Regions from separate parts of the Homo sapiens genome. Here region 2 is linked to region 1. The links come from fine-mapping of genetic effects on gene expression. Tissue or cell type: whole blood. Region 1 holds a variant in brackets; the other region holds the start of a gene. Each region is shown on its reference strand, or each on the opposite one. Region 1 overlaps ZNF229 (zinc finger protein 229). Region 2 holds the start of TTC9 (tetratricopeptide repeat domain 9).

The links.
Region 2: TTC9 starts here. The variant in region 1 is fine-mapped to the expression of TTC9 in whole blood (TOPMed, PIP above 0.99).

Annotation. Positions count from the first base shown.
Region 1 is chr19:44,425,528-44,430,900 of GRCh38, reverse strand. ZNF229 (zinc finger protein 229) reads left to right here. Exons shown (of 6, transcript NM_014518.4): 6 at 359-4,647. The coding sequence ends at 2,598. Among named protein-coding and RNA genes, the nearest start is that of ZNF229, 20 kb to the left of the region's middle. The variant G/A (reference allele first, on the strand shown) is at 2,104.
Region 2 is chr14:70,638,706-70,644,078 of GRCh38, reverse strand. It overlaps TTC9 (tetratricopeptide repeat domain 9), which reads right to left and starts at 2,163. Exons shown (of 3, transcript NM_015351.2): 1 at 1,544-2,163. The coding sequence starts at 1,949. It overlaps TTC9-DT (TTC9 divergent transcript), which reads left to right and starts at 2,781. Exons shown (of 3, transcript NR_110071.1): 1 at 2,781-3,071. RefSeq lists silencers at 1,609-1,678, 1,699-1,888, 2,109-2,258 and enhancers at 2,729-2,988, 3,089-3,268.

The sequences.
Region 1 (5,373 bases):
AATATGTGTACATCATTGGCAGATAGGAAGTGTTACAATAGTGTCAGATATTATTAGTTATAACAGCATTATTAAGCGAAGAAGTGAACTTTCTCTATAAAAATCTGTTCCGAAATTCTTTTTTTGCCTGGCAATTCTATGATGAGACATAGTTTGGTACTAATAGGATCATACTAGCATTTAGCTTCAAAACTTATTAATAGGAGCCTCCTCTTGTCATAAACATAAGTGCTCTAATAGTTATGATACATAAAGCCTAATTTTTCTCTAGGCTATTATTAGTTCAAGTCTGAAAGTCTGATGTCCCTGAGCCAGTCTTTTACTAGTTCTCATCTCTGAATTGTCTTTAACCTCATAGGAGACAAGAATGGAAAGGATACGGAGTATATTCAAGATGAAGAATTAAGGTTCTTTTCACACAAAGAGCTCTCCTCATGCAAAATCTGGGAAGAGGTGGCAGGTGAATTACCTGGGAGCCAAGACTGTAGAGTAAATCTGCAAGGAAAAGACTTCCAGTTCTCAGAAGATGCTGCTCCCCATCAAGGGTGGGAAGGAGCATCTACGCCGTGTTTTCCAATTGAGAATTTCCTGGACAGTCTACAAGGGGATGGGCTTATCGGTCTAGAAAATCAACAGTTTCCAGCCTGGAGAGCTATAAGACCAATCCCCATTCAAGGATCTTGGGCAAAAGCGTTTGTGAACCAGTTAGGGGATGTTCAAGAAAGATGTAAAAATCTCGACACAGAAGACACAGTATATAAATGTAACTGGGATGATGACAGCTTTTGCTGGATATCTTGTCATGTTGATCACAGATTCCCTGAAATAGACAAGCCGTGTGGTTGCAATAAATGCAGAAAAGACTGCATTAAAAACTCTGTACTTCATCGCATTAACCCTGGAGAGAATGGCTTGAAAAGTAACGAATACAGAAATGGCTTCAGGGACGATGCAGACCTTCCCCCGCATCCAAGAGTACCTTTGAAAGAGAAACTCTGTCAATATGATGAGTTTAGTGAGGGCTTGAGGCACAGTGCCCATCTTAACAGACATCAAAGAGTTCCCACAGGAGAGAAATCTGTTAAGAGTCTTGAGCGTGGTCGGGGCGTCAGACAGAACACGCACATACGTAACCACCCCAGAGCCCCTGTGGGAGACATGCCCTATAGATGTGATGTCTGTGGAAAGGGGTTCAGGTATAAATCGGTTCTTCTTATTCATCAAGGGGTGCACACAGGAAGGAGACCCTATAAATGTGAGGAGTGTGGGAAGGCATTTGGTCGAAGTTCAAACCTGCTTGTCCATCAGAGGGTCCACACTGGAGAGAAACCATATAAATGCAGCGAGTGTGGGAAGGGCTTCAGTTACAGCTCAGTGCTTCAAGTCCATCAGAGGCTGCACACAGGGGAGAAGCCCTACACCTGCAGCGAGTGTGGCAAAGGCTTCTGTGCCAAGTCTGCACTGCACAAACACCAGCACATTCACCCTGGAGAAAAGCCCTACAGCTGTGGCGAGTGTGGAAAGGGATTCAGCTGCAGCTCCCACCTCAGCAGTCATCAGAAGACACACACCGGCGAGAGGCCCTACCAGTGTGACAAGTGTGGCAAAGGTTTCAGTCACAACTCGTACCTTCAAGCTCACCAGAGAGTTCACATGGGGCAGCATCTGTACAAATGTAACGTGTGTGGTAAGAGTTTCAGTTACAGCTCAGGGCTTCTCATGCATCAGAGACTGCACACAGGAGAGAAACCCTACAAATGCGAGTGCGGGAAGAGCTTTGGCCGGAGCTCCGACCTCCACATCCATCAGAGGGTCCACACAGGAGAGAAACCCTATAAATGCAGTGAGTGTGGGAAGGGCTTCCGGCGGAATTCAGACCTTCACAGCCACCAGAGGGTCCACACGGGAGAGAGGCCCTACGTGTGTGACGTGTGTGGGAAGGGTTTCATCTACAGCTCCGACCTCCTTATCCATCAGAGGGTCCACACTGGAGAGAAACCCTATAAATGTGCTGAGTGTGGCAAAGGCTTCAGTTACAGCTCAGGGCTTCTCATTCACCAGAGAGTCCACACAGGCGAGAAACCTTACAGATGCCAAGAGTGC[G/A]GAAAGGGCTTTAGGTGCACATCAAGCCTTCACAAACATCAGCGAGTCCACACGGGAAAAAAGCCCTATACGTGTGATCAGTGTGGCAAGGGATTCAGTTATGGCTCTAATCTTCGCACCCACCAGAGGTTGCACACAGGAGAGAAACCCTACACTTGTTGTGAATGTGGGAAGGGTTTCAGATATGGCTCAGGTCTCCTTAGTCATAAGAGAGTGCACACTGGCGAGAAGCCATACAGATGCCACGTGTGTGGGAAGGGCTATAGTCAGAGCTCACATCTTCAAGGTCATCAGAGGGTCCACACTGGTGAGAAACCCTATAAATGTGAGGAGTGTGGGAAGGGCTTTGGCCGCAACTCCTGTCTTCATGTTCATCAGAGAGTCCACACTGGAGAGAAGCCCTATACGTGTGGTGTGTGTGGGAAAGGCTTCAGTTATACCTCAGGTCTGCGGAACCACCAAAGAGTGCATTTAGGCGAGAACCCTTATAAGTAGATGTACATAGAGGATTCCATCTGGGACTCAGAGCTTTCTATCCATCTGAGAGCCAACACAGGAGAAAAACCATAGGAAAGTGACATGTAGGAGGGCTATAGGAGAAACTGATGATTTTACATTTTCTAGTCTGCATAGGAAGGGAACACCTGGATGTGTGATAAATAGGTTAGCACTTCAGTTACAAACTTCAGTCTTTAAGAGTCTGTTGTGCAGCGGAGTAGGCTTTAAAGAAACAGTGCAGCAGTGGTTTCAGTAATAATCCTCACTTCCATCAGAATCTGCCTGGGAGGGAGCTTTTACAATGTACAAGTGGTGAGAATGTTTCCAAGGTGCTAATTATGGACATAGATTCTTTGTGTGGGTTGATAGCTACCAATGGGACAGTGTAGAAACAAGTTTCCACCTTTCTAAAACCAGTTTGGTACATATCTTTTTAAAGATCGCTTTATAAAAACAAAAAGATAACATTAACATTTATTGAAACAAGTCACTCTGAGAAGACCAGGAACAAAGTTCTCTTGGCAGATCTGGGTGATGTGTGTGTCTCACATTTTTATCATGTTTTTATGACTGTTTTATCTTGCAGGTAAGCTTTACAGCTTTCAGAGGAGTTGTAGTACACTACAGAAATATGTCTTCTTTCCAGGTTCAAAAAGCAAAATCTGATTGGCATTGCATTGAATTATTAATTAAATAAATTTATTAATTGGCATTGCATTGAATTTATAGGTTAATTTTGAAAGAATGTGGCGTCTTTGAAATGCTGATTTTTTTTCACTTTAAAAAAATGACTTTTTTTTTACCACTGATAGTATTTCATATGGTCCCTCAGTAATATTTCTTAGAGATGGTTAAAAATAGGTTCTGAGTCATCTTAAGCATATTTCTAGGAATTTGTTTTATTGCTGTCATGAATATAATGGTTTTGCTCCAGTTCATTTCATAGTTTAACATATCAAATATTAGGTATCTTAAAAATCACAAATGCTATTTCACCCTGCAGGTTAGCAGTATTAAAATAGAATCATCAAATCCCCCATCAGTGGGGGCGGGGGGGGGGGTTGTAGAAACAGTCTGATATGGTTTGGCTCTTGTCCCCACCCAAATCTCATCTCAATTTTAATCCCCACGTGTCAGAGGAGGGCCTTGGTGGGAGATGATTGGATCACGAGGGCAGATTTCTCCCTTGCTGTTCTCATGATAGTGAGTTCTCATGAGAGCTGATGGTTTTAAGGTGTAGCCCTTCCTCGCTGTCTCTCTCCTGTCCCCTTGTGAAGAAGGTCCTTATTTCTCTTTTGCGTTCTGCCATGACTAAGTTTTCGGAGGCCTCCCCAGCCATGTGGAACTGTGTGTGAGTTAAACCTCTTTCCTTTGCAAATTACCTAGTCTCAGGTAGTTCTTTATAGCAGTGCAAAAATGGACGTAATAAGTCTTATGTACTTATTGGTGAGAGAGAAAATCCGTGCATTGTTTTCAAAAGAATTCATTAACGTATCAATTCAATTTCTATAACCTTTGAAGTGGCAGTAAATATGTAGTAATTGATACTTGGGAGATAGTTGCCCACTTGGGCAAAAACGCATGCAGAAGGTGGAGTTTTTAAATTTAAAACATTTTTAAAATAGCAAATGTTAATATTCCAGTTTCCATTGGTAGGAAATTTTTTAGATAAGTTCAGGCATATGTATGCAATGGAAAGCCACTAGAAATCTTCAGGCACACAGATAATGACAATGCAGGTTGCTCATGAAGTATTTAGTGAACCAGGAGAGTTTTAGAACAACAATTATAGCATGACCCCATTTTGTTAGTATGTTTTTCTGTGTGTATGTTTAGAGCAACAGAGAAAAAAAGATGTGGGAGAGGACATATAACTACTTATCTCTAGTGGTGGGATTCTGAATGTATAATACATATGTTGTACTTTTATGTATTTTACTTTGTAACAAAGTATCTTTCAGTTTTATAATAACAGTAGAGCTATTTTTTATAAATTAGCCTGATGGAACAATCCCTTATGATTAAAGATTCATGTTGTAACCTCTATAACTTTTTTGGCTTTTTCTCCTGTTCACCCAACTCCCTGTACCAAAGATAAGGCATACAAATGAGTGATGTAAATATTCTCAGAGGCTACATCATTTTTGCTGGCTGGTAGGAGATGAGGCAGTCTAGATAATTAGGAGCCACGGTGTTTCCATTTTTCAGTCCTGCCTTCTTGAACTAGTGAGCCCACAAGCCTGGTTTTGTAGAGGGCAGCACACCATCATGTGTTCCTCCAGGATAAGCTCTCTGTCTTGGTGACTCAGGAGACCTGGGTCTGCTCTGGTCTGAGCCTTCTGCTGCCTGGAGCTGCCAAAGAGAGAAGACATGTCAAGAGGTGGGGAACAGGCACTTTATATATAGATAACCAAAGTATTTACCGTGGGAAATAAGGTTTCAGAAGGGGGCAAGGGGTAGGGATGAAAAGTAATTTATGGAACTGCAGCAGAGTCACTTGGGATGTAGGGTTTTATGGCCAACAGAACAAATGCAGACACCCCTCAGACCTCAAAGTTTGTGGCTGAAAAGTTTAACTCATTCTGTATTCCCAGAGGTTGTCAGCAGACTCCTCAAATTCTGGGCAGTATCTCCCCCAGTGTTGTGGAGGCAGCTGTCAAATGTTGGCAGGGGCTGCAGTCATCTGAATGCTGGACTGGGGCCTACAAGGTCTGCTCCCAAGATCACTTCAGGCAGGAGCCTTCAGTTCCTTGCTGGCTGTTAATAGAGGTC
Region 2 (5,373 bases), not on the chromosome of region 1:
TCGTCCTCCACCCATGGCTGCTCTGCCCTTTAACTATTCATGGGGCAGCAGACAGTATGCCAAAGACTTACAGGAACTAAAGGACTCAAGCTGTATCTTATAATGGATTGAAAGAGTCCATTTTTGCTGTACTACAATTTTATCTGCTACTATTACTGCTAGTATTGCTATTAGCACCACCACTCCTCCAACTGCTGCTACTACTACTCTATTAATCCTTTAAGTCTGTAAAGTACTTTACAATTTACAAAGTGCCTCCGTAGCCTGGGTTTTACCCGATCAAAGATGAGACTGGGCATGGCATTCTGGGAAGACAGAGGTAGGCTGGTACTAGAAACCTCAGAGGGAACAGAGAGATCTGCATTTAAGAACCGAGCAGAATTGCCAGTATTTATTTTTACTCCCCCACCACTGCCTCGGCTTCAGACACATTCACCATTCCCTGCCACACCCAGTCACTCTTCCACCCCTACCCTGCTCTAACTGTCCATAGACAGTTTAGGCAACCTCACATGTCAGGAACTAGGAGGAACTGCCCTTTGTTTGGTCGGAGAAGGTTGACCATGCCAGAATCTCACCAAATGGGGCAAGAGAAGAGGAGAGAATGCTTTTTAAGTTGCCTTTGCCAACCTCTCCCACCTTCTCCCAGGAAGGCCCTAGCAAGAGCCAGACTCTTCTTTTTTTAAGAGACTTTAAATATTCCTGCGCCTAAATTAAACAATTTTTAAATCCCTGATTTTGGCTCTTATCCCCAAAGGGAATGTTGGAATGTACACCTTCTTTGCCCAAGAGTAGGGCCCCCTTTTCCTTCACCCCTAGCAGCCAGCTGGCGTGAGGACTGATGCTACACATAGTGAGAAACGGGCAGGGAGGAGAGGGAGAATGCAGCATAGTTCAAGCCCAACCATGAACCAAGCTTCTTTTGAGATAGAGATCTTCACCTGGCAACCGGGAGCCCCAGCAGAGCTCAGAGAGAAGAAAGTGGCATTCTGGAATCCATTTTGCTCAAGATGCTGAAGGCATGGTGTCAAACTCCCCTTTGCTACTGGGGCCAAAAAACTTGGGGAAGATCTTACCTACAGGGATGCGGTTAGTTGGGGAAAAGGCGAGGACCAATCCTGGTGCTCATGCTACCTAAGGAGAGCAGACAGGTGCGTGGCCTCCCTTGGGACCCACCCGCAGGAAAAAGCTGGGCTAGCGGTGGCTGCGGGGGCCCACCCCGGGCGCTGCTTCCGCATTTTGGACCCAGGTCCACTGGTGAGCAGTAGCAGCAGCAGCCATAGCCAGGCCAGCTGGGTCCCCTTCCAGTCATTTCTAGGTGAGATTTACGATGTATGCTAGCGAAGGGACAAGAGATGATTATGGCCTTTGAAAGGCATAATCCTGAAAGTCACACTTTTTCCAAAGCGCCTCCCTCCCGGGTTCTCCCCAGAGCAACACAGTCACAGCAGGAGAATCTGCACCGCGGGAGCGCCGCAGTGGTCCGCGGAGGGACCGGGCCGAAGAACGGGGACCGCGGCGCGGGGGGCGCGGCGCGGCTCACCTGCCAGGCTGTTGTAACAGTCGATCTCGATGGCTTCCACCGTCTTGCTCTGCTCCTCCGAGAGGCGGCCGGGCTTCAGGGCCCCAGCCGGGGAGGCCGGGCGCGAGTCCCGCTCCCGTTCCCCGGGGGGCGGCAGCAGCCCCTTCAGCTCCAGCAACGCCCGGTGGTATTTGCCTATGGCTTCACGGAATTTCTTGTCCTTGTAGCACTGCGCCCCTTGGCTTTTGAACTCGTGCGCTCGTCGGATGAGCTCGGCCGGCTCGGCCGCCGCCCCGACCTGGCCCCTCGCTGGGGCTCCTCCGCCGCCGCCCGGGACGCACAGCGGCGGCGGTGGCCGCTGCCCCTCTCCGGCCGCGGGCGGGCTCGGGTTCCCCTTGGCCCCGGCCGCCGAGCCCTTTCTCTCCATTCGGCCGCCGCCCCGGCGCCTGGTGCGCGCCGCGATCTGCCCGCCGCCGCCGCCGCCGCCGCGCCTTCCCGGGTTTAAAAGCCGCGGGCGCCGGCCCCGCGCCTCGCAGGCTTCGTGGCGGCCGTGACACCCCGCGGCGGTCTGGCGCCCCGCACTCCCATTCTCCCCGCTGCTGCCAGAGGCTGCTCCAGCCGCCGCCGCCGCCGCCTCGGACGCCGGCCCCTCCCCCGCCTCCCGGCTCCGCGCCGCCCGCTCCCGCCCTCCTCCCTCCGCAACCTGCGGGTGGCGGGGGCCGGTGCTCGCGGGCCCGGGACTAGCGCTGCGGGGGGACCGTGGCCCCGAGTGGGGTGGCGGGGATGGTCGCTGACCCGGAAGAAGCTTGGCTTGCCCGAAGGAGGGGAGGATTAATGACAAAGACGGCCCCGCTCTTTCCCATTCAATCCCGCTCTGCGAGGCGCGCCTAGTCTGAAAGGAGGTGGGGGGAGGGGGGTAGGTGTAGGGGAAGGGGAGTGTGTGTGTGTGCGTGTGTGTGTGTGTGTGTGCGTGCGTGTAGGGATGGGGGGCGGCGGCGACGAAATGCGTGCAGAAATAGATTTCTTAACTACAAGAAAAGGTGCGGCAGGGAACAAGGGGCGCAGGCGCAAGCCGTAGCTGCTAGTTCTTTGCAGTAAGGTGTTAGTATTTTTTAAGGGGGCAGGGCCTCCTTTTTGTGGATCCAGGTTGTCGCTGAGGTGTGTCTCGGTGTGTGTGGTCGCCGGGGCGTCCAGAACGCGACGGGCGGTACAGCGTGTGGGGCGCCGTATTCTGGGAGCCTGTGTATGCGTGTGCTGTGTGCGCGCAGCTGTGCAGGATGAATCACAGACATCAGAGATGGAGAACACCTGTTACTGTGGGTCATCGGCTTGGCGTGCGTCCGGTCTAGTTTCCATTTACAGGACAGTTCTGTGCCCTTCCTCAGGAGGTCCCATTCCTTCCTTCTTTTGGTCGGTTCTGAGTGTCAGCTGTCTACTGGGGATCTGCTAAGGCTAAGAGGCAAAGATAGGCAAGTCACTCCCCTGACCTCAAGAAACTCCCAGTCTACAGGCGAAGATACACCACCCACCGGTAGAGTCGCTGGACCAGGTACAGATGGTGCCTGTCATTGGGGAGGAACGAAAAGTGCTGTGCAGCCCTGAGGGGGGGAGGGAGAGGTAGCTTTTTGAGTAGTGGTAGATCAGGAGGCTTTATGGAGGAAATAGCATTTGAGGACCTTGAAGGCTGGGTAGGATTTGGCATGAAGAAGTAGAAGGAAGTGGCATAGCCGGAGTGAGGAAATCCAGCGGAAGTCCTGATGTTTGAAATCTCAGGTGTGTTTAGGGCATAGTGGTTTGATTTTATAGCCTAATGAGAAGTAGTGGGAAATGACGGGGTTGGATTATGGGGGCTTTTGGATGAAGAGTTTGGATTTGATTTTGGAGTCAATGGAGAAGCCTGACATATTTTTTAGTGCCCTCCCTTCCTTAATGTTAAGAAAAAGAAAGATTCTAGAGCACCGGTTGTCAGAGTGCTGGCCCCAGACCTGCAGTGTCAGCATCACCTGGGAAACAGTTAGAAATGCAAATCCTAGGATCCTACTCCAGACTTAAGAAATCAGAAACTCTGAGGGTGGGTCTCAGTTAACCAGTATATTGGTTCAGATATGCTGCTTTAAAACCTTCCTACTCAAAATGTAGACCTTGGGCCAATATCATCAGCATCACAGGAGAACCTATCAGAAATGCAGAATCTGAAAATCCCACACCTACTAACCCAGAAGCTGCATTTTAACGAGCATACTGGGTGATTTGTTTACCTATTAAAGTGTGAGAAACACTGCTGTAGAGACTTTGGAAAATACAGTAAAGTATAAAGAACCCCCCAGTCTACACCCAGTTGTATTCTTTGTTAATATTTTGATGTAATTCCTACCAGTTGTTTCCTAGGCATCTATATTTGTAAAAAGTGCTCTTTTAGCCAACATAAGTGGTATGGAACAATATACACAATTCATTTACTGTTTGTTGTTGTTGTTGTTGTTTTCTTTTCTTTTTTATTTTTGAGTCAGGGTCTTTCTCTGTCACCCAGGCTGCAGTGCAGTGGCATGATAATTGCTCACTGCAGCCTCAAACTCCTGGGCTCAAGGGATCCTCTCACCTCTTACTTTAGCCTCCTGAGAAGTTGCAACTATAGGTGCACACCACTACCCCTGGTTAATTATTTTTTTTGTAGAGACAGGGTCTTGCAATGTTCCCCAGGCTTGCTTCCTGTGCTTTTTACTTTACATTATATGTAATTAAATATTCTTTTAAAGCCTAATTTTTAATATTCTGTACAATATTCCATTGTAAGTGGCCGGGTGCAGTGGCTCACGCCTGTAATCTCAGCACTTTGGGAGGCGGAGGTGGGTGGATTACCTGAGACTAGAAGTTCAAGACCAGCCTGGCTAACATGGTGAAACCCCATCTGTACTAAAAATACAAAAACCAGCTGGGCATGGTGGTGGCTGCCTGTAATCCCAGCTACTTGGGAGGCTGAGCAGGAGAAACGCTTGAACCCGGGAGGCAGAGGTTGCAGTGAGCCAAGAGCGTGCCATTGCACTCTAGCATGGGCCGCAGCGGGAGACTCTATCTCAAAAAAAAAAAAAAAAAAAAAAATTCCACTGTAAGTGTACCATAGTGTACTTAAGCATTCTTCTATAGTCAGAAAGATTTTGCTATTATAAATAACACTGAGATAAAAATAATAGATATCACTTACATATAGTATTTACATTGTGCCAGGCATTGGGTTAAGCACTTAACATATAATAATCCACTGAATCTTCATAATAACTTAGTGAAATCAGTGCTATTGTTATCCTCATTTTAGACACCAAGTCACAGAGACTTGCCTGAGATTACACTGCTAATGAGTAGTGGAGCTGGGACTTAAACCCAAGAAATTTGGCTCCAGAATCTATGCTCTTAACTATCTTTATACTTAAATTTTTTTCCTAATTTATTTTTTCTTACAAAACATTATTTCAAGTTTTAATAAAGTCTAGAAACACATTGTCAACTTGCTTCTCAGAAAGATTGTACTAACTTGTGCTGCCACCAGCAATATGCTAGTTTCACCACCTCCTTGCCAACGTCAAGGGTGAGCTCTTAAGAAATATTTTCTAATTTGATAAATTAAAAATGTATATAGAATTAAATGAGATAGCTCTAATTATAAAGGTGAACATTTTTCACATATACCGTTGTCATTTATAGAGAACCTAGGGCTTTTAGTTGGACACAATTTTAGCGTGCTAAATTATGTCTTGTATTTCTTTACTTTCCTAAATGCTTTGACATTTTTCATCTCATTTGATCCTCACATTATCCCTGGAGAGGGGAGATGATTCTCTGCTCACACAGTGCGT